Regions from separate parts of the Homo sapiens genome. Here all the other regions are linked to region 5. Evidence: fine-mapped expression QTL. A gene starts in region 5. Each other region holds a variant in brackets. All regions are shown on one strand. Distances are from middle to middle. Region 1 has its middle 11 kb from the start of TRAF3IP1. Region 2 overlaps PER2 (period circadian regulator 2). Region 3 overlaps PER2 (period circadian regulator 2). Region 4 holds the start of LINC01107 (long intergenic non-protein coding RNA 1107). Region 5 holds the start of LINC02610 (long intergenic non-protein coding RNA 2610). Region 6 overlaps TRAF3IP1 (TRAF3 interacting protein 1). Region 7 has its middle 30 kb from the start of LINC01107.

Region 1 (4,067 bases), 78 kb before region 5:
TAGTTTGGGGTCTGAAATTTAAGTCTTTAATCCATTTTGAGCTGATTTTTGTATATGGTGCAAGATGAGGGTCTGGTTTCATTCTTTTGCATATGGATCTAGTTCTCCCAACACCGTTTATTGAAGAAATCATCATTTCCCCAATGTGTGTTCTTGGCATTTTTTTTTTTTGAGGCAGAGTGTCACTTGCCCTGCGTCCAAGACTGGAGTGCAATGACACAACCATAGTTCACTGTAACCCCAAGTTCCTGGGCTCAAGCAATCCTCCTACCTCAGCCTCTGAAGTAGCTGGGATTACAGGCGTGTGCCACCATGCTCAGCTAATTTTTTGTCTGTTTGTTTTTGAGATGAAGTCTCGCTCTGTTGCACAGGCTGGAGTGCAGTAGTGCGATCTCGGCTCACTGCAACCTCCACTTCCTGGGTTCAAGCGATTCTCCTGCCTCAGCGTCCCCGAGTAGCTGGGACTACAGGCATGTGCCACCACGCTCGGCTAATTTTTTTGTGTTTTTCGTAGAGATGGGGTTTCGCCACATTGGTCAAGCTGGTCTCAAACTCCTGACCTCAAATGATCCACCTGCCTCAGCCTCCCAAAATGCTGGGATTACAAGCGTGAGCCACTGCGCCCGGCCATCAGCTAATTTTTATTTTTTTTTGTAGAGATAGGATGTTGCTATATTGTCTAAGCTGCTCTTGAACTCCTGGGGTCAAGCTATCCTCCCACCTCAGCCTCCTAAAATACCAAAATTACAGGTGTGAGCCACTACCTCTGGCCTCTTGGCACTTTTGTTGAAGGTAAATTGACTGAGCCCTCCAACCTGAAATATCCCACCTGCCACTCCCTGAAAGCCTGCAGTTGACTCCCACTGACCCCAGGAGTCCTCCTCCAAGCTCCGGCGGTGCTGTCCAGCTCCCCCTGGCCCATGCTTAAACAAGGGCATGACTTTCCCCAGCTAGTGCACAAGGTCCAGGAAGGCTGGGACAGGGTCCATATGTCTCCTCAGGGCACCCCATGAATACTGGCTGCATGAACGTGTGGGTGCCTGAAGGAGGAAGGAGGAAGTCTTTAAAAAGGAGTGGCGCAGCCGGGCGCCAGAAACAAAACCTGGCCAGGCGCAGTGGCTTACGCCTGTAATCCCAGCACTCTTGGGGGACGAGGCGGGCAGATCACGCGGTCAGGAGATCGAGACCATCCTGGCTAACACGGTGAAACCGCATCTCTACTAAAAATACAAAAAATTAGACGGGTGTGGTGGCGGGCGCTTGTAGTCCCAGCTACGCAGGAGGCTGAGGCAGGAGAAGGGCATGAACCCGGGAGGCGGAGCTTGCAGTGAGCTGAGATCATGCCACTGCACTCCAGCCTGGGTGACAGAGCGAGACTCCGTCTCAAAAAAAAAAAGGCGTGGCCCTCTCAGCTATGGCTGCCTTGGCCCTGTGGTGGGTGCTGTGCCACTCAGGGCTGAGGCCCACACTGCCCCAGCTGCCAGAAGCAGTGATCCCTGTGGGCTCACAGCCAGGTTCCCTTCTGGGGAGACTTAGCCAAAGGGGCCTACTGTGCCTCCTGCTCCCTATGGGCACC[C/T]GCATTCAAGGGCTGATGGAGTTGGGGGTGCAAACCCAGTTTCCCAGAGATCTCTACCCAAGAGAGTTGCTCTCAGAAGTGGTCAGAGGAAATGGACCCTAAATTGAGATTTCGGAGCTGAATCACCACTGACCGGCTCAACTGAAGCCCCCAGGGTGGGCGTGAGAGACCACTGTCTCAAAAACAAACAAACAAACAAACAAACAAACTAGAATCCCCAGATTCTCCTGAATCATCTGGACCTACAGAGGAGGCCCACTGCTCCTGTTAAAGGCTAGCACCCCCTTTCTTGAAGTGTTTTATATAGAGAGAATGTGTGTGTTATAGTTGGGGGGCGGGGGGAGAGAGAGAGAGAGATGTCTGCCTTGCAAGACAATGCATGCGTTTTTCAGGATCTATGCCAATATCCCCCTCCTGACACCAGACCAATCATGAGGGTCAAACAACAACATAACCTAGCTAGGACATGCTGGCCTGCTAAGGGAGGGAGGGACTCTATTCCGAAGGAACTGCAGGATCTGCCTAGCATGGACCAGCAAGATCCAGGAGAGCACATCCAGGACTGCATCCCAAGAGTGCTGGACCCAGCAGGGGACAGAATATAAAGACGGATAAGACAAGAGTTGATGAATGTGGGAGGACTTTCCGTGATAGAAGCTTGTGACCCTGGCTGGGTCCCAGGGAGACAGTGCTAATGGGCTGTTAGAATGGCTCTTGGACACCTGCAAAGAGCTATGGCCTTCACTAAGTGAAGGAAAACTTCCAGCCCCACCATGGAGGATGGTAGGGAAATGAGCCTACTAGAGCACATACGTGATGTTGGGCCAGCAAACCTACCAGCCCACTGTGTCCTGTGAGAGGGCTCGGAGGTCACTTCATTTACCAAAGTGACAATATTTGGCATGTAATATTGGTTTTTATAGCCAAGAGTGGCAAGGTCAGAGTGGTAGCCAGGAAGACCTGACATGCAGAGAGCTATGCGGCCGGATAATACAACAAAATGTTCCTAGGGACCAGGGGAATGAGCAGTCAGCAAGGGTGTGGCCGAGCTTTCGAAACTAAAATAAATCAAACATGGATGAGCAGGAGGCTGAGAGTGGCTGCCCCAGTCCCCCGCTACAATCCCTTGCCTGGTTTTGGACCTAGAACTCATTGAAAGGCCAGGTTCCCAACATCACTGCCGGTGCAGGGAGCCAAAATCTCCCCCACAGTCCTTCCCCAAAGAAACCTAAGGCCACTCATTCAAGTAACTATACACAGGGAGGGGGAATACAGAACCATTTCAAGGACTATTGCACACAGAATCCTGGGGACATGGAGCATCATCTTGACTCCTGTTAAAGGGAGGGCATACGGGGTCAGGTGATAGAGCCCTAGCCCCACTTTGGATTTTGGTAGGTCCACAGGGTCCATGGAGCCACCTGGTGGTCATTTCCCGAGCCCTCAAATGCAATGATTGAAGTGGACACACTTGGCATATGGGGTAACCCCATGTTGGCCAGATACTTGGGATTGTGGAATAAGAGCTATAGACCTGGGAAGCTGAGTGGGAATCCCTGACACTGCCCCTCCCCCAGCCAAGACAGTAAATAAAAACCAATATTGCATGCTGAAGAGAGTTACAGCAATTATAAGGGACGAATAGATTCCACTGTTAAAACCTGAAGGATGCAGGTATACTTTCTCCCCATTATAGAGTCATTTAATTAGCCAAACCCCTGCAAAAACCACATGGATCCTGGGGATTGACAGTGGAATACTGCAAACCCAAACAAATAGGAGCCCCAATTGTGGTATCTTTGCTATAGCAGGTCAACACAATCTCAAGTCCATGGTAGGAAGCCAATACATTCATTTCCATCCCTACTTAAGAGGAGAACCAGAAGCCGCTTACATTCATTTAGGATGGATAAGAGTACACATTGGCTGGGCACGGTGGCTCACACCAATAATCCCAGCACTTTGGATCTGAGGTGGGCAGATCATCAGATCACCTGAGGTCATGAGTTTGAGACCAGCCTGGCCAACATGGTGAAACCCCATCTCTACTAAAAATACACAAAATTAGCCGGGTGCGGTGGGCGCTTGTAATCCCAGCTATTCAGGAGGCCGAGGCAGGAGAATCGCTTGAACCTGGGAGGTGGAGGTTGCAGTGAGCCGAGATTGCACCACTGCACTCCAGCCTGGGCAACAGATTGAGACTCCGTCTTAAGAAAACAAAAAAGAAGAAGAAGAAGAAGAATACACACTGATTGTCTCACCCCAGGGCCATATTAACTCTTTTCCCTCTTTCCTAATATAGTCTGGATGGACCAGACACTCTGCACAATGCTGCACTGGTTCAGTATACTGATATCCTATTAATTAAACTGGATGACCAGATTGACGAGGAGAAACCTCAGAGGCCTTATTAAGGTGCGTGTGCTGCAGAGGGTGGGAGAGAAACCCTGTGAAGTTCCAGGCGTCTGCTGCATCGGTGAAGTTTTTAGGG
Region 2 (4,067 bases), 21 kb before region 5:
CACTTGTTAGAGATGGGGCCTCTTCCCTTCCCCCTGGGACGCTGGCACAGGGATCAGAGCCAGTGAGCCCAGGAAGCCACTCACCACAAGGACCCAGCTCCCCCGGGTCTCTGGGCAGACGCACCAAGGGAAATTTGTAAGAAATTAAGCCCACAGCTTCCTTGAGGATTATGTCTTCTCCACTCTTTCCTTTCTCTCCTTCTTCCCCAGATTCAAGAGTTACTGCCAGCCCATAGAGAACCTCTGTAGAAATTAGAAAAAGGTGTACTCCATGGCCATGAGCAGACCCACCCCATGGGACCAGCCTAGTGCAGAGTTCCCGCTCTTGCTTGCCCCCTAGACAACTCTGTAGCCTTATGCAGTGCACAGACTACAGAGCTGCCTAGGGCAGCCCTGCCAGACCCAGACATGACATCCCAGGAGCCCAGTGCTTTAGCCACTGTTCCCACCAGGGGACAGATTTCTTGTGAGAAGAACACCAGATAGAGAGGCTGAATTGCAAAACCTCCATTTACATAGGAGTTTGCCTTGGACTAGCCCATTTCCCTTCAGCACATCCCAAAGGCATGGGACTGCCTTGGCACAGCTGACAGATGTCCCAGACACCTGCTGCAAGAGCCCCAAGTCACTCCGCGTGATGTGAGAGGAAAACCAAAGTTCCCTGGATCCCCCTCCCACTCCCCAGGGAGGCCATGGGGACATACCCAGAGTCCCTCCTTTACCAATTGAGTCCCTCCATCTTCCTGAAGAATGCCTTACTCAGCAGCACTCGTTATTGCAGAGGAAGAATTTGGTTGCAAGGCAATGCTCCCCTCTGATCTTGCTCAGGCTGTTTGACAGGTGAAAGAGGAAACATCCCTCTTTAAGGAACAGTAGTGACAGTGCTTATAAATTGAAAAATAGAGGAGGTCAGTGGCTCTCCCGTTCAGATTTCACTAACCAATTTTTCCCCCAAATACTGGGGAACAGCAGAGACATGACAGCTTTTTAGTGTATTTATTTAACAAATAGAACTTTGTATTACCACTTATCATATTAGCATTTCATAAAAGAAAGGACATTTAATACCAGAAGAAAATAAGGAATGTGTCCTGCAATTAAGAGCTTGTAATTTAAGTTGATTCAATTTAGTTTTATGGAAAAACCTGATGTTTTGCCCTGATTTTTCTCACTTCACTGAGGATCAGGGAAAACCGCTCGGTGGACCAGGCAGGCCCTGGGCCAGCATTTGGAAACCCAGGACTGTTGAACGAAGAGGTGTCTTCAAATTTGGAGTTAAAATTTTAACTCCGAGTATTTGTTTTTCTGCATTAGCTGCCCCTGGACTAAGAAATACTTCCGGAATAGATTCACCTTGGAAAAAAACAGGAAAGAACAGAAAATTGAAGTCCAAGCGGGTCAAACCTCGAGACTCATCTGAGAGCACCGGATCTGGGGGGCCCGTGTCCGCCCGGCCCCCGCTGGTGGGCTTGAACGCCACAGCCTGGTCACCCTCAGACACGTCCCAGTCCAGCTGCCCAGCCGTGCCCTTTCCCGCCCCAGTGCCAGCAGCTTATTCACTGCCCGTGTTTCCAG[C/T]GCCAGGGACTGTGGCAGCACCCCCGGCACCTCCCCACGCCAGCTTCACAGTGCCTGCTGTGCCCGTGGACCTCCAGCACCAGTTTGCAGTCCAGCCCCCACCTTTCCCTGCCCCTTTGGCGCCTGTCATGGCATTCATGCTACCCAGTTATTCCTTCCCCTCGGGGACCCCAAACCTGCCCCAGGCCTTCTTCCCCAGCCAGCCTCAGTTTCCGAGCCACCCCACACTCACATCCGAGATGGCCTCTGCCTCACAGCCTGAGTTCCCCAGCCGGACCTCGATCCCCAGACAGCCATGTGCTTGTCCAGCCACCCGGGCCACCCCACCATCGGCCATGGGTAGGGCCTCCCCACCGCTCTTTCAGTCCCGCAGCAGCTCGCCCCTGCAGCTCAACCTGCTGCAGCTGGAGGAAGCCCCTGAGGGTGGCACTGGAGCCATGGGGACCACAGGGGCCACAGAGACAGCAGCTGTAGGGGCGGACTGCAAACCTGGCACTTCTCGGGACCAGCAGCCGAAGGCGCCTCTGACCGTAAGGATTTTCTGATGCTCTTTCCCCAAAGCAGGCAGCAAACAGCACACCTGGCAGGCCGGCCGCACATCCTCAGTTCAGACATGGGGGTTACACGATTGAGGTTTCCACCAAACCCTGTAGGTTTTGCCATGAATGTGTGTGCCAGAAATTCATGCTTCCCACTTAATCCTATCAGAGTAGATTATTCGAAGCCTTTTATTGTCGTGGAATCTGAATGAAGGAGGAGAGATTGTGATACAGACTCCAGAAAGCAGCATGTGACTTGACAGTATTTGTGGGCTTCGACTTTTTAAATGACGCTTCAGAGATAAAGCACAGTCAGGTTAAATACCAGAGCTAGGGCTCCTCAGGGTGTGGCGCCGGAGCCTGGCTCAGGTGGCCCCGGTGAAGGCGGAGAAGGAGGGGGACACAGCCCTAAAACCAGCGTGACCTCAGTTTCCATCCTCCGCAGGCGTAGGGACACTGTGTGAGATTCTTAACCAGTTAATGAAACGGTAGTTGTATTTGCAGTTAAACGCTTGTGTTTCTGAACGAGCTCAAGTGTGTGGGAACGCCAGCAGCAGTGCAGTCCGTAGGCCTCAGGCGATTCCCTGCCTTGGCCAGAGGACCTAGGGCTCCCGGGTGAGGAAGTGCAAGCATGTAGATCTGTGGAGCTTCTCCCAGTCCTCCTGCCACCTCCGGGCTCCTGCTTCTGGAGTCCTGGGCCTGCAGTCTGGGTTTCCAAGGAGAGGAGGGTCAGGGATGCTCCCCAGGCCAGGCCCCGCCCTCAATCCCAAGGCAGCCCCCACACCGGGTGCTGTGAGAGGCGTTTTCCCCATCCATGTCTGCTGCATGTGAGGAGGGGGCTGTGGCCAAGGAGCAGCCTGAGGCTTTCCCCCCTGGAGCCCAGGTATTGCCGTCTTCCATGTGACTCTCCGAAAATTAAATGTAACTAGACGGCATCCATAGAGCATCAGTGGAATTTGCACCGTAGGCCTGGTGGTGATGCGTGGTCTGCTCGTTAGGCCGTCCCTGGCCGTGAACCTTGCAGCCGCTCCACAGCACCCCTCCACCCTCACCCCACTCATGCCCCCCACCCCCACCCCGCTGCATATGCTGTGTCCTGACTGAGCCCCTGAACAGCAGTATCTGCTTCCTGTCCCTAAAGCGTGATGAACCCTCAGACACACAGAACAGTGACGCCCTTTCCACGTCAAGCGGCCTCCTAAACCTCCTGCTGAATGAGGACCTCTGCTCAGCCTCGGGCTCTGCTGCTTCGGAGTCTCTGGGCTCCGGCTCACTGGGCTGCGACGCCTCCCCGAGTGGGGCAGGTATGTTGGCCCTGGCGGGGTGTTAGGCACTTGGGAGGTTCCTGCAGGATGCACTGCTCCAGAGTCACAGGCCGGCCTCTGTGCTCAGAACAGGGATCACCGGCACTCCCCAAGCAGCTGTCAGAGCCCATGCAGACACCCACACAGACACACTCTCCCTGTTCAGCATGGCTGGCCCTAGCTAGTCAGAATTCCACATCCTCCCTGTTTGCTTCTGATTTCAGTGCCTACAGGCCTCACACCCTGGCTCCTTGTGGGACCAGCCCTCTGACTCCCCAGATAGTGGTTTGCCTTCCTGCTTTAGTTCCACTTGTGTGAACTGAGGGTATGGAGCACCTGCAAGCCTCTACCCGCTGGGATCTTTCACATGTGATCTGGAATCTCAGGCACCAGAAATGTACACACTCTCCACAAAATTGAAGCTCCCCTACTTCTCTGGAGTGAGCTTTCACCTCGCCTCCCTTCGCAGGCGTGCTGCACAGGTGAGGCTGGCTAGGGAGCGCTCCAGGCCAGCTGCCTCCCCTTGTGGGAAACTGCAGTGCCCTGTGGTCCACATGAGTGGAGATGGTGAGAGCTTGGGAGAGAAGGTCAAGGCTTCTAACACGCAGCTCCACCTGAGCTGCTCAGGGCTTCACAGGAAAGAATCGCC
Region 3 (4,067 bases), 39 kb before region 5:
AGCAGGTAGAGCGCCCATGGTGGGCTGGAGGGGCCCAACCAGAGGCCTCTCCTCCCCAGGAAGCCCCTAGAACCCTGGGAGACAGCAAGGCTGGTGGAGGTTGTTAGGGCAGGCCAAGTGAGCAGAGGGTCCCCCACCTCCCAGTCACCCAGCCTGGACACCAGGTGCCATGTCCAAGACAGCGGGGTGAGTGGCGCCTCCCAGGGGGTGGAGACAGCTGGGGTTTCTTCCAGCCATAGAACCCTGATGTGTTGTTTCAAATAATATCATGCTGGACCTCCCAGTATCTGTAACAGGTGTAAGAGTTAAAGAGGAAAGAAACATGAAACGCAGCTTGGCAGTCAAAGACAGGTTTTCTTTAGTTAAAACCTGAGAGGTACTCCTGGCCGATTTTGGTCAGGAGCGCTTTCTCTTACAGACTGAGAGTATATGTTGGTTTTAGGGTGAGGGGGCTTATCACAAGCTTGGAATGTTTCTGTGTGTGGAGAAGTTTATGGCGGGGCTGGAATCTCTCTGGGAGGAGGGGAGGTTATCTTGGGGCAGGCATCTTTCCGGCCCGGATTGGGGTCATCTCGGGGCTAGTATGTCTCTGGTCCGGGAGGAGTTTGGAATGTTTCTGGTTGGAGATGTTATTTGTGGTTTATGGTCATGTTGACCTTAGCCATTAGGCTGATGCCCTTTGGATGTAGGCTGTTTTTTATTAAGGTGAACTTTAGAATGAGGGGCTTGTCCAAGATGGCGATGCTCCTGCTCTGTCAACAGGCAAGATAGGATTTTTTGGTGAGGGCTAGGCAAGGGAGTCAGAGAGCCCCCCACCTCCAACGCTCCTGGTGGGCGGCTCCCTCCAGCCTGCCTGCCTGAGTCGGATGTGGCGTCCGACACCATCTGACCTTGTCATCAGAGCCCTACTCTTCCTTTTCAGGATATGTTTGCGGTGGCCGTGTCCCTGGTGTCTGGGAAGATCCTGTACATCTCTGACCAGGTTGCATCCATATTTCACTGTAAAAGAGATGCCTTCAGCGATGCCAAGTTTGTGGAGTTCCTGGCGCCTCACGATGTGGGCGTGTTCCACAGTTTCACCTCCCCGTACAAGCTTCCCTTGTGGAGCATGTGCAGTGGAGCAGGTGAGGTTATCGAGGTAGTGCCTTGTTCCCTCTGGGGTCGGGAAAGGGGCCAGGAGCTGGGCCCAACCCAGATGTGGTGCAGGCGCCCTGCCTCACCTTTCAGAGCCCACCTGTGGGGGCCGCCAGCTGCCTGCTCTGGCAAAGGTAAAGGATAAGCAGTTGTTCGTCCCTTCAGAATAAATTTAGAGAAAAAAATAGTCTTTCCATACATTTCAGAGAGAGAAAACCGTTAGGCATTTTAGAAATGAAGTTGTTTGGAAAAGCTGGAATCTTGCTGTGATTGCAGTCGTGGGAGGCCGGGTCGTGGGGGCAGTGGGGAGCGTGAGCAAGGCACCCTGCTCCCTGCACGCAGGCGTCCCCCTGCCACCTTAGCAGCTGCAACCAGTGAGTGGGTCATATCCCAGAGTGACTTCCTGAGGGTTCTTTGCCTTGACCAGGGCTGGCTTTGGGTATACAGACTGTGAGATCCCTGGGCAGATGCCGCTGGCCCCCGAGGCACTGCAGGCCAAGTGTGCTGCACTGTGGATGGCAGCCTTCTTGGCTGCTGGGCCTGCCCCTGTAGCCACCGTCTACCCTGCCTCATTTCCAGGCTCCGCTCCCCAGCCAGGCCCTCCCAGCCGGGTCTGGTCTAGTCCCTGGAGCCAGCTGGGGGTGTGCCTGCCTCTGGGCCTCTGCCGGTGCCTCTGACCCCCACTCTCCTCAGGG[C/T]CTCCTGTGCCCCAGCTCTCCTCCCTGCCCAGCTAAGTCAAGGACCAGGTGAATTCTCAGGGGCCTTTCCAAGCTGCTGATTTTATATCATTTTCCGTAACTAGCCATTGCTTCTACTTTCCTAATTTCTTTTGAGTAGATGAAATGTATGAAAGACCTAGATCTAAGATTTTTTTTTTTTTTAGTTTAGATTCCCACGAAAGCAGAGATTTCTGTTTTTTAAATCCCTTTCAACTATTAGGGAAACACCTCTTCCTTCATTTCTGATGAGGTTGCCCAATTGATTTCATATTTTCACTAGACATTTCACATTTTAAAGGAAGTTACTATTTTACCAAAATACCGATGTAAGCCTTGAATGCCAAGTTGTTTCTGTTAGAACTGACTATCCCAAAAATATGTAGCATGAAATGTTTGGGGCTTCTGTTTCACTGTGGCCAGGCCTCTGCACACCTACCCCAAAGTCTGAGGCAGCTGAGAGGCCAAAGAAAGAGGCTGACAAATTCGGTTTCTTAGAAAGAAATATTTAACAGGGACTTAAGAACAGAGGCCATGCATGTTGTGGGTGGCGATGAGACAAGACTGGATCCCAGTCTTGCCATTCCCCCAGACCCAGGGCTTCTGTGGGACTGGCACACCGGCTTCAGAGGGAACCAGTAGGAATTTGCCCTGAGGGCAGGATTTACCTTAAGTACCTGCTCTTACTCAGGGACAGTAGGTAGATGAAATCTCCGAGGCCTTCCCAGAAGTGGGGTTAATCAAAAATCAGCATGGAGGCTTAGCTTCCAAGATATAGCTGCTGTGGCCTCCACAGCTTTCTTTGTCAATGTTCTGGACATCCGTGACTGTGCTCAGTTGTCGGTTAGTTGGTGTGTTTGCAGCAGTGCACCATGAGTGTGCTCAGTTGTAGGTTAGTTGGTGTGTTTGCAGCAGTGCACCGTGTGTTCAGTTGTAGGTTAGTTGGTGTGTTTGCAGCAGTGCACCGTGAGTGTGTTCAGTTGCAGGTTAGTTGGTGTGTTTGCAGCAGTGCACTGTGAGTGTGTTCAGTTGCAGGTTGGTGTGTTTGCAGCAGTGCACCGTGAGTGTGTTCAGTTGCAGGTTGGTGTGTTTGCAGCAGTGCACCGTGAGTGTGTTCAGTTGCAGGTTGGTGTGTTTGCAGCAGTGCACCGTGAGTGTGTTCAGTTGCAGGTTAGTTGGTGTGTTTGCAGCAGTGCACCGTGAGTGTGTTCAGTTGCAGGTTAGTTGGTGTGTTTGCAGCAGTGCACCGTGAGTGTGTTCAGTTGCAGGTTAGTTGGTGTGTTTGCAGCAGTGCACCGTGAGTGTGTTCAGTGGTTAATTAATTGGTGTGTTTGCAGCAACATCATGTGCCATTTTGAAAATGTAAGCCTCCTGGTGCTAAAATTTTAGCACTGCATAATTTGTAATGCACCACACTCATGAAGTCTATGTAATTTTAGTCAAAAATGTAATAGAAGGTTTCTCACATAAAGGATTTACTTTGTGCTTCCATAAATTTTCAGTTTTCACCTTGAATCTTGCTTGATTCTGCTGCTCCTCTTTTGTTTGTGAGAAATGAGGAACACTGTATTTAGTTGTTGGTTTGGATGAATGACTTTGGGCTCTCTCTTTTAGATTCTTTTACTCAAGAATGCATGGAGGAGAAATCTTTCTTTTGCCGTGTCAGGTAAGCCTGGTTCCCAGTTTTCTTAAATTAGAAAACCGTATAAACATTTCACCCCAGCACTGCTCCGCTTGAGGCTGGGGGGCGTGATCCCTGCCTGCAGGGACTCAGCACGCCTGTTTCTGAAGTCTACCAGAAAACACAGTCAGTTACATTTTAAATGTGTACAGGTCGCTAAGAATGCGGCCAGCAGTGGAGTGCTTTAACCTGCCCCTCATGGACCTGCACTTTCTCTCTGTGTCTTGCAAAGGCCTGTACCCCAGGGTCGACAGAGTTTCTGAAAGCACTGCGTCTTTTGGTTGTCTGTGCGTTTTTCTGGGGAGAGACCCGTAGCTTTCCCGACAAGGGTCTTGGTCCAAACCAGGGTGACTGATTGAGCATCCAGCTGCACTGTCAGGAGTGACCCCGAGCCAGACCCTGGCACCCTCAGGAGTCAGGGCCGAGGACCCCTGGCGGGAGCAGCACCCCTTTTCTGTCTGCTTTACCAACCCAGGGTGCAGGCTGCTCCAGGCTGCCCCACTGGTGGGGGTGTTAACTCTGATTTGCCCTTCAGTATG
Region 4 (4,067 bases), 320 kb before region 5:
ATCTTTGAATTCATTATTTCTGCTGTTATCTGTAGTCCTTACTTCTGCTTTCCTTGGGTTTGTTTGTCTTTCATTTCAAGTGATTTCTTAATTTCCTTTAACAGTTTTTAAACTGTGGAATTATTTTCTCAGTATAGTCCAAGCTACATCTAATAAGCTCTAGCATGTAACTTTTTCTTTTTTGTTCTTTTCTAAATATTGTGTCACTGCTGATTTGGTTTTTCTCTTTTATCCATGAGATGACTGTTTTAAGTTCCCAGGAAGCGAGTCTTCTTGTTCCAATTTATTCCTGAATTTTTATTTTGACTGTCATTACACTGTAGTTAGGAGATGTGACCTCTACTGTCTCCAGCATTTAGAATGTATTGCGGATCCAGGGACACAGCAAGTCAGGTGGGCTCTGTCGCAAGGATGGTTACAACATAGACTACTTCCATGTCAGTCTTCCATTATTTGCATACTCGAGACCCTGATGTGTTGGCTAATTTGCCAAGAAACCCCCGCAGCAGACTGCGTCCGCAGGGCAGGGCTGAGTAGCAGGGGCAGCACCTCTCACAGGGGCAGGGCCGCTTGCCCAGCCTTGAGGAAGGGGGACCCAGACATTGCCTTTCTCAATACTGAGCCCCTAAACAGGATTTCTGGTCTGGGGTCTGGGACTAGGCTATCTGGACAGTCAAACTCTTCCCACTGCGCCATCAGCCCCACTAGGAAAGAAAGAGGAGAAATTAGGGCTTTGCTTTAAAGAGTTCAACGGTCAGAATATGTCCCCCGCAAACGGACATGCTGGAATCCTCATCCCCAAGTGAGGGCGGGGCCTCACATTAGGAGGTGATGAGGTCACAGAGGCAGAAACCTCACGAACGGGATCAGGCTCATCAAAGAGGCCTGAGAGACGACACCTACCAGCTGGAAGGCGGTTCCGCACCAGACACCGAAGCTGCTGGGCCTTCGACCTCGGACCTCCGTCTTCCAGAACTGTGAGCCACACATTCCTGATGCTCCTAAGCCACGCCGTGTACGGTATTTTGTTACGGTAGCCCAAATGGACCAAGATAGGAGCTAAAGGTAACTGACCACACCTCCAGCCCACCCGCAGAGCTAACAGACAGGCCCTCAGCTGCAGGCCTGGGGTAGAAGGGCTGCCAAAGGGGCTGTGGGGGTGACGGGGGGGCCGCATCCCTGTGGCCCCACTTGGCACAGGGGCTTTGACTCACTGCTGGAGCTGCCAGGCTTTGAGTGGACAGGCCTGGCCTGGGAGGGGGGCAGCAGCGGCAGAACGCACCTTGGACAGAGGACCAGGTCTCTCCCCTTTGTCCAGAAAGAAGTCCCCATGTTGAGTTCAAGGGAGGGGTGAGGCTTCAATTGAAAAAAAAAATAATAATAATGTCAGACTTGCTACCAGTCTTTGCATATGGACGTTTTGGCTAAATTTTATTTGATTTGGAGGGAAAAGGTAATGTGACATCATCCACACTCTGAGTAATACGGAGCAATTATTACCTGTTAAGCCCACTTACCTTCGTCTCCAAAACCTACCAGGGACTGGGAGATTAAGAGTGCCCACAGCTGTAGTGCCGCCAGTTTCTCCCTGTGGTTCCAATCCCACTTCAAATATTTTTTTTTTTTTTTGAGACGGAGTCTCGCTCTGTT[C/A]CCCAGGCTGGAGTGCAATGGTGCAATCTCACTACAACCTCTGCCTCCCGGGTCCAAGTAATTCTCTGCCTCAGCCTCCCGAGTAGCTGAGATTACAGGCACCCTCCACCACACCCAGCTAATTTTTGTATTTTTAGTAGGGATGGGGTTTCACCATCTTGGCCAGGTTGGTCTCGAACTCCTGACCTCATGATCCACCCGCCTTGGCCTCCCAAAGTGCTGGGATTACAGGCGTGAGCCAACACGCCCGGCCTCTCAAATAAATATTAATACTGTCTATTATATTTAGTTTTATGGAAGTATATAACTTCATTATGGATTGAACATTTTATCAACAAAAAGAAACACTCTTCATGCAGTTTTTCCTCTTTGAACTCAAATTTTCTAGTATTAATATCGTGACTCCTACTTCACTCTGGGTTTTATTTTCTTTTTTATTTACTTGGAAATATTCTCATGATTCTGTGTTCATTTTTCTTATTGTAAACACACAAAAAGTCTTTGGGCTTATGTGGCCCCCGAGAGTCTTTTTCTTAAAATGGGTAAATTTATCCCATTTACATTTATAATTATAATTGATACATTTTGTCTTATACGATCTTATTTCAATCTCCTGGTGGAATGCTTCCTAGGGGTTTTCTTCCATTGTTGTTTTACATATTGTTAGGTTGTCTTCTTTCTCTCTGTCCTCTCCTATACCTTGGAAGAATACAGTCATCGTTGTTGTTTTCATTGTAATTCTTTTTTATATAAATATAAGGAAATGAATACGGGGAGAAGTTAATTCTGCTGAGTGGAGTGGGATGTCCAAAGGATCATGAGGAAGCTAAAGTGCAGTGGCCCCATAACGGCTCATTGCAGCCCAGAACTCCTGGGCTCAAACGGTCCTCCTGCCTCAGCCTCCCAAGCAGCTGGGACCACAGGTGCACAGACCTACACCCAGCTAATTTTTTTTTTTAATTTTGTAGAGAGGGGATCTCTCTATGTTGCCCAGGCTGGTCTCAAACTCCTGGCCTCAAGCAATCCTCCCACCTTGACCTCCCAAAGTGCTGGGATTCCAAGCATGAGCCACCACACCCAGCCTTAATTCTTTTTATAACTTTAAAAATACTTCTTATCCTGTGTTTCTGAACGTTATGATCTACTGTAACAAAACAAAGTGAATAAGTTAGCAGAATTACACTTATTCCAACTTCCCTAGCATCCTATTTTTGGTTGGTATTCTCTGCACATTTTTTGCCATTTTGGTTAATCTGTTGTGATTTTTATCTTATTAAAATTATTAACATTTATTCAGAAAATACTTATTGATTATTCCCTAAGTTCCAGGTTATGTTGCTGCTAGTGGCTCAGTCATACACAAAACAAAATATGTCCTCGGAATAAATAATCTGTCCTCAGAGAGACTGCGGTCTAGAAGGGAAGAGAGATGTGACTAATTCCACAATAGACGTGTAGTCTGCCTTGGTCTGTTCAGCTGCTATAACAAAACGCTATGAACTAAGTAGCCTGTAAATAATAAAAATTTGTTTCTCACAGTTCTGGAGCCTGAAAGGCCAAGATCAAGGCAGACTCATTGTGTGGTGAGGGCCATTTTTCCGGCTCATAAACAGTGCTTTCTTCCTGTGTCCTCACATGGTGGAAGGGACCAATAAGCTCTTTGGGGCCCCTTTTAGAAGGGCACTAAGCCCATTTATGAAGGCACCATCCTCATGAGCTACTCACCTCCCAGAGGCCCCATGTCCTAATAGTATCACCTTAAGGGTTAGAATTTCGATATATGAATTTATAGGGGCTGGGGGGTCACAAACATTCAGATTGCAATATAAAACTTTTCAGCTTCTTAGAGAGTGACACTTACCTTATCATTGGTGGCACTTTACAATCTCCATCAGCCACATGGAAACCTGATTAGATTAGTGATCAGGGAAACGTTTATGTTCTGATGTGTGTCCAGACTCAAGACTATTATTTGGACTTAATTTCACATTTAAACGAATTCCCTGCTCACCATCCACCCTTTCTTTGTCCAATCCATGTTTAGTTTATGATTTGGATTCATCTTTTGGTTGGCTGAAATAATTCTTCATGTAGTAGTAATAGCTGTTGCTGTTGATTACATTGTTTAATTGAGAAAGTGCATACACAGGAAACAAGTTCTCCTACATGAGATATTGTCTTCTGCTGCCTTATACAAGCAGGAACTTTGGCTAAGAGAAAATCTTGGGTTCACAGACTCTTCACCTGAAGAATTACAAATACTGGCCTAACACAATGTTCAGATAGTTCTGAGGCCAGCCTCACAAGTTCCTTTAGTAAATGATCCTTTTCTTATCACTAGGTGCTTGTGAGATTCCACGCATCATACTAGAGGTGTGAGCACTGCACCTAAGGGTGCCTCGGATCATCCCTGAGAT
Region 5 (4,067 bases):
GCGTGATGACGAATTCTTGAATGAGAAGGCATGTAGACAGAAGTGTTCCTATGGCAGAATATTTACAGCACTACTTTCAACCAAGTGCTTCTTCCATAAACATTTGAAATGAGATGAACTGCAGAGATTAAATGAAGGCTTCATATTGTACTTTTGTGTTTGAGGGGAGACAAGTGTTAAAAAACAAAACAAAAGAACCAAACTGTGACACCATGATCTTCTAAAAGGAGATTTTCTTAAGGAAAAAAATCCATATGGTGGGGTTCAAATTAAAACAAGGAATAAAGAATGTAGTTCTAATTCATGGCTTCCATTTTGAACATGCAAAGAACTCACTTGACAAGTCCAGGGATAAAATATTACAGGAGAAACCTTCTGATATCAATTGTAGTGTGTTGGTTTACCAATCAGGCAAACAGCAGTTCACTTTCAACCACTCAATATTTCAACCTTTCATGTAACAAAACTTATAAAATTCCTTTAGCTGTTCCTTTTTCTAAAGAAAAATGTCAAAAATACTACTGAATATACTCCACACTGAAGAAACCAATTTTGAAAATTCTTAGTACATATGTATTTTACAATATACTTACCATGAGTTTAGAAAAATTTGAATTCCAACCATTCTATACCAACCAACCACAACCCCACTGTCTACGTTCCCAGCCAGAAGACTTAGAATCCATGCTTGAGCCAAAGCCGCCATTAAAACCACTGCCCGACCCTGCATTGGATGCTGATCCCCAACCAATTGTTGCACCAAAATTAGAACCACTACAAGAGTTATTTCCAGAACCGAAGGCCTGGTTTGGCTCCCTCTGCATGTTGCCTTGGCTTTGGTTATCATCCGATGGGCCTGGCTGCTTCGCTGGCTGGCTAACACACCCATCGTACACCAACTGCTCTGCAGCACTGCCTGGGGGGCAGCCATCATGGCTGGATTAATGCTGAACGCACCAAAGTTTATCCCACCACCCATATTACTACCTTGATTGTTTCCCAAACCAGCTCCACCCCCTCTACTCTTACCAAATCCACCCTGATTCCCAAAGCCACCTGGATTACCACCAAATCTTCCACTTCTTGCTGTCTATTGCTATTGCGCTTGGGTTCGGCATTGGATATGTGAACGCTGATTCCTTTCATCGAGTCCTCTCCACAAAGAGACCGCGCAATCTGATCATCTGCAAATGGAACAAAGGCAAAGGCCCTGAACGGCTTGGGGACGAAGACATCCATCACATCCCCATACTGAGAGAAGAACTCCCACAGCTCATCCTCAGTCATGTCCTCCGTACGGCGCCCCACAAACACTTTTCTGCTTCTCAAAGGCTCATCTTGGCTTTGCCGCACCATAAGAACGTCTCCAAAGGTACTACAGTACTCTTTCAGGTCCTGTTCAGTTGTTTTCCATGGGAGACCCAACACTATTAAATCGGACTGGTCTTTTCACTTTCACTGCTGATGAAGCTTCTGTCTCACCCATTTTTCTTTTGTTATCTTTCGGATAGTTGACAACATACACCGGATTTCTCCAGCCAGCATCGGGGGCATGCAGAATTCCTTCTACCAGCCGGACACCTCTCATACATTGAGACACCGGATTCCTGCAGCGAAGCCCACACGCCCCTGGAAACTGGGCTGTAACCGTGGACAGCAGCACCGTCCCATCGTCTTCCGATGGTATTTCAATGGGCTCATCGTTCTCATCTTCGGTTACCCGAATATATTCAGACATCTTTTACTTTTCCACTAGGCCGCTGCTGGGAAGCCCGACAGGGACACCGAGGCAGCGACGGACCCAAGCGCCAGTGTTTTTTTGTTTGTTTGTTTTTTGTTTTTTTAAAGAGGCCACCACAAGTTGAGGCGGGACTACAACTCCCAGAGGCCGCCGCGGCCCGGAGGCCACGCCCCTTGGCGGCGAGCTCTGAGCCCTTTGCCGCATTTGACACTCGACATCCTCGTGCTTCTTAAAGCACTTGCCCAACGGTGAGCAACGGCCTCCAACGGTGCCCGAGGGACTCGCGCTGCCCGTTAAGCAGCTTTGCGGTGGCGGAGGCTGGGCTGCCGTCTCTCCGACATCCCGGGACGGAGGAAGAGATGAAGGCTCTGCAGCCCCCGCCGCCCGATTTACGCTTGAGAAAGCGAAGGCGAGAGAGGTCGTCCAGCCCCTGGGGGCCCAGCCCTAGAGAGCGGGGCGCGGGCTGCGGGGCCCGGCGGCCTGGACGGCGGAGCGTTGAAAGCTCCCCCAGGGATAGGAAGTGCAGCCGAAATCAACGATTGAGGTCAGTGAAGGAGCGGACGCTTGAGGCCTTGGAGGGGAAGCAGGTTTCTCCAGGAGGGAACCCGGGCCTCCGCTTTGCTCAGCGCTCCCCTCGCGAATGTGTTGAGCACCTGTTATGTGCTGGGGGTACAGAGGTGAGACTCACAAGGCCCCTGCATTGTCTTTAAGATCAGCAAGACCCCGCAGAGAACCCAAATCCAACGCGCACTGCCCAGAGGCAGACACTGGCATTCCTTGATAGACGGTAGCCAGGGAAGCCCAGGTCTTACTAGATTATTATCAGTACTTGGATTTGAATGTATCTGAGAGGAGGAGGGTTAAGGTTTAAGCTGTGGCTCAGAAGCCCCTCAGCTCTTCGTGGAATCTCCCAGGCTTTTCACTCTTGCATCCTCATGGAAAAATACTGCCCTCCCTGGGAAACCATGCTTTCTGTGCACACCTGCTCTGTTCCCATGTCGCTGTACTACCTATTGACCTGTCAATGGATGATGACACTTGGGGTACTATCCTCTCTCCTCCAGATCTTGCCCCACCTTAACCTTGAAAGAATATTAAATGCGCCCTTAGACGTCAGGAACCATCCCTCAAACCTTGCCATTCCTCTCTGTTGAACCTGCTCCAAATCTTAAGTGCCAACCTCCATCTTATCCACTTTATCCTGGGGAACTTGTCCTCACACCCCGTTGAGGTTTCTTACTTATTGTCCTACTGTTTTCTTCACACTCCAGTTTCTTAAAAACAGTCTTCATTCTCATTTTCTTCATTTCCTCATCACCTGTTTGTCCCTAACAAAATTTCAGTATGGCTACATTTCCTGCCATTCTACTATAGAAAACTTCTGCCAGAGTCTCCAATGAACTCCTGATTGCCGAGTAGACTCTTCAGTTTTCTCACCCGAACTTTGCGGCATTTGATACTCAACATCCTCATGCTTCTTAAAACATTGTTCTTGCCAGAGCACGGTGGCTCACACCTGTAATCCCGGCACTTTGGGAGGCTGAGTTAGGCAGATCGCTTGAGCCCAGGAGTTCAAGACCAGCCTGGGCAACATAGCAAGACTCCATCTCTACCAAAAATGCAAAAAATTAGCCAGACATGGTGGCCCGCACCTGTAGTCCCAGCCACTCGAGAGGCTGAGGTGGGAGTATCACTGGAGCCCGGGAAGTCAAGGCTGCGGTGAATTGAGATCACGCCAGTGTGCTCTGGCCTGGACAATGGGAGTGAGACCTTATCTCAAAAAATTGTTCTCTGTCTAGTCTTCTTGCTCTTCTTGTTCCACCATTCCTTCTCAGGTTCTGGCAGTGGCTCTTCACAACTGGATATTAAATGTTGTCTTTTTTTTTTTTTTTTTTGAGACAGGTTCTCACTCTGTCTCAGGCTGGAGGCTGGAGTGCAGTGGTACGATCATGGCTCACTGCAACCTCGACCTCCCAGACTCAAGTGATCCTCCCACCTCAGCCTCCTAAGTAGCTGGGACTATAGGCGCACATCACCATGCCTGGCTGATTTTTGTATTTTTTTTGTAGAGAGAGATGTTTGTAGTGTTGCCCAGGCTGGTCCAGCAATCCACCTGCCTCACTCCCAAAGTGCTGGGGTTATAAGCATGAGCCACCGTGCCCGGCGAATATTGTCTTCTTAAATATTGTGCCCCACATTTCTTTGCTAGGCCCTCTTCTCTAGCTTCTAGGCTGTAATCTGTATGATCTCCATGGCTTCACCTGCTGTGCTACCAGCTGCAAAATCTATTTCCAGCCCAGCCCTCTCTGGAGCTCTCATAGAGTTT
Region 6 (4,067 bases), 110 kb before region 5:
AAATGCCAGCTCTCAGGGGAACGCACACAGAGAGAGAAGGATGTGCTGATCGGTATTCCAGCTACGCTCCAGAACGTGTAAAAGTCAGACAGATACAAGGCAAGTTGGGCCCAGCAAAAATTTCCTCTTCCCCTAAAGTCTAATTTTACACTATTTTTACCTTAAGTGAAACTGAAGAATTCTAGCATCTTGAAGAATTCCGTCTGAAGTCACAGATGACAGTGGTTACTGATACTGAACCAAGGACCACCCCCTCTGAGGCAGCAGGACGAGGGCTGGGCACACCCACCACACGGCTGGACTGAATGTGATTGGCTGTGACAGGCCAACTTCCCCAACGTGCCTAACTAGCACTTTAAACATCTCTACTGCGAGCATTTTCTGAGTAGAATAAAGCAGAGCAGGACGAAGACATAAAAACCGTTTCTCTATGTCATCAGCCACACCACTGTGAGATCCCGACAGCAAGATTAAGAAAGCATTTTGACTGAAATGTAAAAATAATCTATGTATAAAAAGGCATATAATTAACTAAAAGCTGAGTTAATAAAGTTACATAACTTAGCATATTAAAGCAAATAAAACCTCAAGTTATGTCCAGTCTTCAATACATCATGAAAAAGTCTCATGAACATTAAAGTAGTTAGAATAATTTTTTAACAATGTATAACTACATTGAGATATAACCATTCACATTAAAGTGGTGAGGAATTTAAACTAAAGAATATATTTTTCTTACCTATTTCTGATGTTGTCGTTTCCTGATTTGGCTCATTATTTATTCCAGACACTATGGAGTCTAAACTTTTAGCTGAAATATTATCCTCCTTCCTTCCTGACATAAAATAGTTAACAACAGATTAAAATATTATAAAAGATTTTGTGTTTGGTTGTTTTAGCTGGGATTTATAAGGGTTACATTACACCAAGGTCACCAGCAAACTGTCTTGTCAACTAAATGGTCAATTCTCAGCCTCCACATGATTCCCCTCCTTAGAGCTTGACAAGAAGCCCCCTCTCCTTCCCTAACACTTTCTTCCTCTCCAAGTTTTCCTCCAACTTGTTGGCCTTCTGTTTCCTTTGCAAGGATGATCCTCCCTCCTCCTCTTCCTCCTCCTCCTCTTCCTCTTCTGACCTGGGGGACCACAGCAAGCTCTGGAGTTCACCACGTCCTTTCCTACCTACACACGCCCCTGGACTAATTACTGCGCAAAGGTCCATGTCCGTAAACATCACTTGTATGCTAGAACTCTCCATTTTTTGTTTTTCCCTTTGGTTTCTCCAGCTCTCTCCTGATCTCCAAGTCAATATATCCAGCTGTCGACTAGATGTTTCTACTTGGTTGGTCCATAGCCATCTCAAATTTGTTGTCCAACACAGAATTCCTAACACTGCCACCCATTCCACCAACCAGTGTCTCCCAGAACCGTCTATGTCAATAAAGGCCACCCCCTAGGAGCCCAGACCCCTCCCACAATGAATCTCATCTTTGATTCCTTTCCGTTCAAACAAGTGGCATCCAACCTGCCAGCACAGTAAACCCACTCTGCTGTCACCACTGGCACTCTGGTCCAAACCATCACCTCCTCTCATCCAGATGCCATGGCCCCCTCCTCGCTGCGCTGCAGCCTTTACTCCTGCCACTCCACAGTTTTAAAAGGAGGCCTTCTACAACCTAAGTCAAATCTTGCCTCGGTGCTGCTTAAAACTCTTCAAGGACTTCTGTGTGCACTCACTGTAAACCACACAGCTGCTGTGGACCGGGAACAGCAGCTCCGGGACCAGCAGCTCCAGGCCCTGCTTCCTGGCCCGGCCCTTTCCCCTATCACTGTTCCTCTCTCCACCCACCTCACCACTCACACACCTGCATGTCCTCCTTCACCCAAGTCAGCTCTCTGTCCAGATGTCCTCCCTCAGAGAGGCCCTCCCTGCTCACGCCCCTCATTCCTGCTCCTCTTGGCTTCATTTTCCTTGAAGATTCATCACAAACTAACATGCACATATGTACCCCTGTGTTCTCTTTATTATCATAAATGTCTGCAGAATCAGTGAAGGAAGGCTCAAATGGACAATTTAAGCCTGTGATTGACTCAGGGTAGGAAATCCTCACCTGGCCAGGGGCAGCCCTGCATGGGGCCAACATGTCCCTCTGCCC[C/A]CTCTCCACCCTGGCCAGAAGGCAGTGTTCTAGAGCGCAGGCCCCAGGTCAAGCAGGGCCACACCTATGCCAACCACCCCCACAGACTTCCACATGTTCAATGACCAAGCAGAAGCACAGGACCAGGCAGTAAAGCTTTCAACTCTCAACATTCACTCACAGCCTCCACTATGGTTCACTTAGCTTACCAAGCTGTTTCATGCTATGTTCCTTCTTAGCTTTACAGTAGGAAAAGTTATGTTCCTTTTCAGGGGAAAGACTATTTTCACTGGTTTTAGGGTCCCTTCTTCCTGACATAAAATTGCACAATGAAAATATATATTAAACTTAATCTGTAATGTAATGTAAAGCAGTTAACAAACAAATGAAATTAAAATGTACTCATTAAGTCAAAGTGATCAGCTCTGTATGCACTACTTAGAAATAAGCAAAAATTATAATATTCTCAGGCAGAATGCTTTCTGGATTCTGCAGGGATTCCAGAATGACTTTAAGAGTCTAAATATGTTTAACAATGTGATACCCTCACACCCTGTAGTAAAGTCTCATTCATCCCCTTGAGCAAGACACAGAGGTCCAGTGTGTCACACACCTCTGGGTACTGAGCATTTGCCCAAATGAGAACCTACTTAAGCGAGGCAGAATGTTCAGGCAGAGTGCCAGCTTTGCTGGGGAACCCACAGGGAGGTCAGTGCCCGGCTAGCAGGAGGGGAAGACAGGAGTCCACTGAGCTGTTGATAGCTCAGGGAAGCTCAGTGTCAAAAAGCCCATAAATGTCTGCTAATAAAATCTCTTAAGACCATACAAAAGAACCCTAGAGCACAAGCTCACCAGTAAACACAGATGCACATATCAGAAGCAATTAGAAAAGAAGAGCAGATGATACAACTGTCTGCTTAGGAAAGCCAAAAGAATCAACAGAAGAACTACTGGATTAAGAGGCAACAACAGGCCAGGCACAGTGGCTTACAGCTGTAATCCCAGCACTTTGGGAGGCTGAGGCGGGCAGATCACTTGAGGTCAAGAGTTCGAGACCAGCCTGGCCAACATGGTAAAACCCTGTCTCTACTAAAAATACAAAAAATTAGCTGGGCGTGGTGGCATACACATGTAATCCCAGCTACTCAGGAGGCTGAGGCAGAAGAATCACTTGCAGTGAGGTTGCAGTGAGCCATGATTGCGCCACTGCACTCCAGTCTGGCAACAGAGTGAGACTCCGTCTCAAAATAAATAAATAAATAAATAAATAAATAAATAAATAAATAAATAAATAAAATAAAATAAAATAAACCAGCGAGCAACCACTGTGACCAACATACGCAACCAAGTACACGCAACGTGTTCTCAGAAGAGGGGGACACCTTCACTAAGCTGAAGTTAGAGGTGCCTAAACTTCCTAAACTAATGAAAGCATATATTTAACACAAGTCCAGTTAAATTCTGAGACGTTAGTTTATTTTGCAAGAGTGGAATTCTTGAGTCATGAAGAGTTTTTAAAATTCATCCGGAAGAATAAGCAAATAAGATGGCTTAAAACTTTTTGGAAAAGAACAATGATAGAAAACTAATAGTAAAAATAAAAAAGTGGAAGTAAAAAACACCACACACAAAAAAGCCCGTAACCCAGACTACAAAAGGCTTCACAGAGCAGGAGAGAAGCATTCAATGAATAAGTGATCCTGGAACCACGGATGGATTATTCTGACAAAATAGATTCAGAGCCTCACCTTATACCATGAATTAAAGTAAGAGATAACATAAGAAATTAAGTAAAAAAAAATGTATGATAAAGCACAAATCTTCACCTCTCAAATCTCTGGACAGATTACCAAAAAAAAGATTAGAGGCCTCAAGCACATAACAGTTTAACACTTAGGCAAATCAGAAACCAAACCAAATATAATTAGTAGAA
Region 7 (4,067 bases), 350 kb before region 5:
GGGGGAACAACAGTTCCTCAGAGGATCCTGGGGCTGAGTCCCAATGACCACACCAGGACTCTGCTCACTGACCTCCCACTCAGCTCTCCTCCCTGCTCTCTCTCCCAGGTCACAAGCCTCACCTGGCGTCTCCTCCCAACTAAACCACTTGCATCCAAGTCTCCCTTCCCTGTTTTCAGGGAAGCCCAGACTAACACACGGCCATGGGATTCCACTGGCTGCTCCCTCACTCAGCAGCTAAAATATGCTCTTTGTAGTCGGGGGACTCACGTGGGTTCTGAAGTCTGGGAAGGCTTACTTCCAAAACCACCAGGCGCTTCACGCTCGTTAGTAGTCATCTAGATTCTGAATCTGCAAAGAACTATCCCCCACCACACAAAACAGCCATTCAGAACACGTTCTTGGCAGGGGAATTGCTCATTCAAAGGCTCAAGACACAAGCCAGAGGCCAGCGCGCCTCCTTTTCATGTTCGAAAGGATTCACATGGACGGCTGACGGGGCTCGGAGAATCGGGCTTGTTCTGCGGCTGCTGCACTTGGGCAGAGAGCAGGCAGTCCCAGGCAGAGATTTTCACGGACTGATTTCACTCCAAGTGGGAAACGTGTTGTCAAAGCAGGAATGCTGCCGTGGAGTGTCTTGGACCCGCATGTGACGGGGACTGGGCCTGCCAGTGCACAGAGCCTCGTGGTGTGGTCATCCGCCCCAGCGCACCCCCAGCAGCTCCCATCTCCCAGAGGCTGCCGCACTTCCACCTGGACACCCCGCGCTGGCCCTGCCGCCTGACCACTCCAGGGCTGGCCCCACCAGCCTGCTCGTCTTGGCGGGGAGACCCTCGTGGCTTTTCAGTCATTGTGCAAAGCAGCTTCTTGCTGTTGCTGTTTGTAGTTTCTGGTTGGAAGAATGTAAATGCCATGGGGCAGAGGACAGCCGGGCTGACAGTGCAGTGGCAGGAAATGAGGAACTTTGCTGAGCTGAACAAGGGAACCTGGAGGGTAGACCCAGCAACTACGGAAACCGCTTTCCCCCAAATAGACCAACCTGACCGAAAAATCAGCTACCAACTACATGTGGCTCAGCTGGGAGCCAACACAATGCAGGAAAGTTCAGCCTCACCGAGGTTCAGCTCTAGGGCAGGGGCCTGGCTACCACTAGAGGGGTGAGCAGGGCAAAAAGATTAGAGGGCCTTCACTCAGTGACATTTTATAACAGGTTTTCTAAATATAAATGTAACAAATATTTATATTATGGAAAATTTGGAATCTATGAAACTTTGAAACACTGAATTTACAAGCTCAGGTCTTGCCTTTCCATGTTGCTCTCAGACTCTTTTTAAACCTAGGTTTCACGTCGGCTGCCCTCATTCTGTTCTAACATCAGAGCACGTACGGTGTTTCCAGACTATTCTTGAAGACTGACCACTGTGGACATCTTTGCTCATGAAGTTTATCTCCCTTTACATGAATTTTATTCTCCCTCTCAGAAAGGAGCATGGTCTCAAGGGTGAGGGGAGAGCCAGGTCCCGGCCCTGCTCTGGGCTTAGCATCATACATAAAAGTGTAAGTAGTGGGTCAAAGGTAGGATCCTCCCTCAAAATTTAATATTTAAATAACAAGTTTTTTATAGAAATAACACATTCTCATCATAGAAAAATAAATTTTGTATGATGATTTTTTGGTCAAGTCCATCTATTTGGGGGAAAGTGGTTTCCATGGTTACTGGTTTCTATTCACTATTTTAAATTTTAAAATAGTGTCAGAATTCAGGTTTCCTTTTCCTCACGTAAGGAGCTTAGAAGTCATCCCTTTATCCTAACAAGTGAAAAGCTTAATGAACTGAAAAATTAACAACTATTCTTGGGTCTACCAGAGAAATGAGGTCTCCGGGCAAACTGCTGCTTTCCAAACTGAAGATAAAAAAAGGTTGGGGGGTTGGGGGCTAGGGGAGGGATAGCATTAGGAGAAATACCTAATGTAGATGATGGGTT[G/C]ATGGGTGCAGCAAACCACCATGGCACATCTATACCTATGTAACAAACCTGCACGTTCTGCACATGTATCCCAGAACTTAAAGTATAATAAAAAAAAATTGAACTATGAGAAAGAAAGAAAAAATAAAAAACAGGTGGACACAGAGAATCCCAGCCCACCAGAGCAGACACATCTGCAGGAATCAGGCCTGCGTCGAAACCCTGGGCTGTAAATGACAAATTGCCAGAGGCTCAGGGTGCGCAAGTTTGAGAGTTAAAAACTCCAGGCAGGCCCAATCACAGGGGGCCCTGGCCTCTTTTGTGAATTTTACCTCCAGGAGCTCCACCAGGTTCTCACAATGAAATCAGGGGAGAATCTCCTCATGCTTCTGGCAGGGGGAGAGAAAAAGGAACCAGTTTAAACTACACTGGGGCATTCTGAGGCCTGCCCTCAGAAGAAACTACATTACCAGAGCCTAACCTGCTGGGATTTTAGCAGAGCCTAACTACCTAGGAAGGGAAATACCCAGCTCCAACCCCCTCTACACATTATGTCCTAGCTAGGAGGGGAGAGAAAAACTGAGAAACACTTGTGAAGTTCACAGTCCAGAGACATAGTCTTACCAAAGGACCAAGACCTACTCATAGAACTATAGGACGGACGCTCCCTTCACTTCTCTCCCCATGCCTTACACCACATCACTGAAGGCCTGTCTTCCAGAGTTCCTTTTACCCAGGATGTCATGTTAGGCTACCAAGAAAATAATTACAAGGCATACCGAAAGGCAAAAAACATAGTTTGGAGAGATAGACAAAGCGTCAGAACTAGACTCAGATAGGGCAGGAATGTTGGAATTCTCAGACCAGGAATTTAAAATAACTGTGATTAATATGCTAAGGAAAAAAAAGAAAGGAGACATGAATTACTAATAGCAGACATAAAGGAGGATACATCACTACAGAGCCCATGGATATTAAAAGGGTAATAAAGGAATACTATGAACAACTCTATGCCCACAAATTTGATAACCCAGATGAAATGGGCCCGTTTTTTGAAAGACACAATCTGCCAAAACTCACACAAGAAGAAACAGACAATATAAATTGGCTTTTATCTGTTAAAGAAATTGAAGCAATAATTAATAACCTTCCAAAACAGAAAGCACTAGACTTAAATGGATTTCCTGGTGAATTCTACCAAACATTTAAGAAAGAAATTATGCCAATACTCTATAATATCTTCCAGAAGACAGAATCAGAAGGAATACTTCCTAACTCATTCTAATACTACTTAATACTTCCTAACTCATTCTTCCTAACTCATTTCAGCATTAGGCCAGCATTACTCTAATACCAAAACCAAAGACGTTGCAAGGAAAGAAACTACAGACCAATATTTCTTATGCATATAGACGTAAAAACTCTCAACAAATATTAGCAAATTGAGTCCAAGAATGTATAAAAAGAATTGTACACCATGACCCAGTGAGATTTATCCCAGGTTGGCAAGGTTGGTTCAACATTTGAAAATCGATTAATGCTTAAGAATGAAAAGAATAGCCACAGACTGGGAGAAAATATTTGCAAAATATACATCTGATAAAGGACTATTATCTAAAATATACAAAGAACAACTCTTAAAACTCAACAAGAAAATGTGCAACTCAATTAAAAAGCAGGCAAAAGTCTTGAGCAAATACCTCACCAAAGAAGATATACAGATGGCAAATAAGCGTATAGAAAGATGTTCCACATCATATGTCATTAGGGAATTGCAAATCAAAAGAATGAGATACCAGTACACACCTAATAGCATGGCCAAAATCCAAAACACTGACAACACCAAATGCTGGCAAGGATGTGGAGCAACAGGAATTCCCATTCATTGCTGGTGGGAATGAAAAAATGGTATAGCTACTAATGTGGTTAGGCTTTGTGTCCCCACTCAAATCTCATCTTGAATTATAATCCCCATAATTCCCACATGTCAAGGGAGAGACCAGGTGGAGATAATTGGACCATTGGGGTGGTTTCCTCCATGCTGTTCTCATGATAGTGAGTTCTCACAAGATCTGATGGTTTTATAAGTGTTTGGTAGTTCCT

Evidence for each region.
Region 1: its variant is fine-mapped to the expression of LINC02610 in whole blood (INTERVAL, PIP above 0.99).
Region 2: its variant is fine-mapped to the expression of LINC02610 in whole blood (TOPMed, PIP 0.97).
Region 3: its variant is fine-mapped to the expression of LINC02610 in whole blood (TOPMed, PIP above 0.99).
Region 4: its variant is fine-mapped to the expression of LINC02610 in whole blood (TOPMed, PIP above 0.99).
Region 6: its variant is fine-mapped to the expression of LINC02610 in left ventricle (GTEx, PIP above 0.99).
Region 7: its variant is fine-mapped to the expression of LINC02610 in whole blood (INTERVAL, PIP above 0.99).

Annotation. Positions count from the first base shown.
Region 1 is chr2:238,307,302-238,311,368 of GRCh38, reverse strand. No RefSeq gene overlaps it. Among named protein-coding and RNA genes, the nearest start is that of TRAF3IP1, 11 kb to the left of the region's middle. The variant C/T (reference allele first, on the strand shown) is at 1,577.
Region 2 is chr2:238,250,950-238,255,016 of GRCh38, reverse strand. PER2 (period circadian regulator 2) reads left to right here. Exons shown (of 23, transcript NM_022817.3): 19 at 1,315-2,105; 20 at 3,256-3,418. Among named protein-coding and RNA genes, the nearest start is that of HES6, 13 kb to the right of the region's middle. The variant C/T (reference allele first, on the strand shown) is at 1,576.
Region 3 is chr2:238,268,369-238,272,435 of GRCh38, reverse strand. It overlaps PER2 (period circadian regulator 2), which reads left to right. Exons shown (of 23, transcript NM_022817.3): 6 at 923-1,124; 7 at 3,462-3,513. Among named protein-coding and RNA genes, the nearest start is that of PER2, 18 kb to the left of the region's middle. RefSeq lists an enhancer at 965-1,464. The variant C/T (reference allele first, on the strand shown) is at 1,830.
Region 4 is chr2:238,551,472-238,555,538 of GRCh38, reverse strand. It overlaps LINC01107 (long intergenic non-protein coding RNA 1107), which reads left to right and starts at 40. Exons shown (of 3, transcript NR_037809.1): 1 at 40-1,065; 2 at 3,992-4,067. The variant C/A (reference allele first, on the strand shown) is at 1,651.
Region 5 is chr2:238,229,552-238,233,618 of GRCh38, reverse strand. It overlaps LINC02610 (long intergenic non-protein coding RNA 2610), which reads left to right and starts at 1,942. Exons shown (of 3, transcript NR_026926.1): 1 at 1,942-2,285. It also overlaps the pseudogene TARDBPP3.
Region 6 is chr2:238,335,130-238,339,196 of GRCh38, reverse strand. TRAF3IP1 (TRAF3 interacting protein 1) reads right to left here. Exons shown (of 17, transcript NM_015650.4): 8 at 740-835. Among named protein-coding and RNA genes, the nearest start is that of TRAF3IP1, 17 kb to the right of the region's middle. The variant C/A (reference allele first, on the strand shown) is at 2,156.
Region 7 is chr2:238,582,973-238,587,039 of GRCh38, reverse strand. No RefSeq gene overlaps it. Among named protein-coding and RNA genes, the nearest start is that of LINC01107, 30 kb to the right of the region's middle. The variant G/C (reference allele first, on the strand shown) is at 1,986.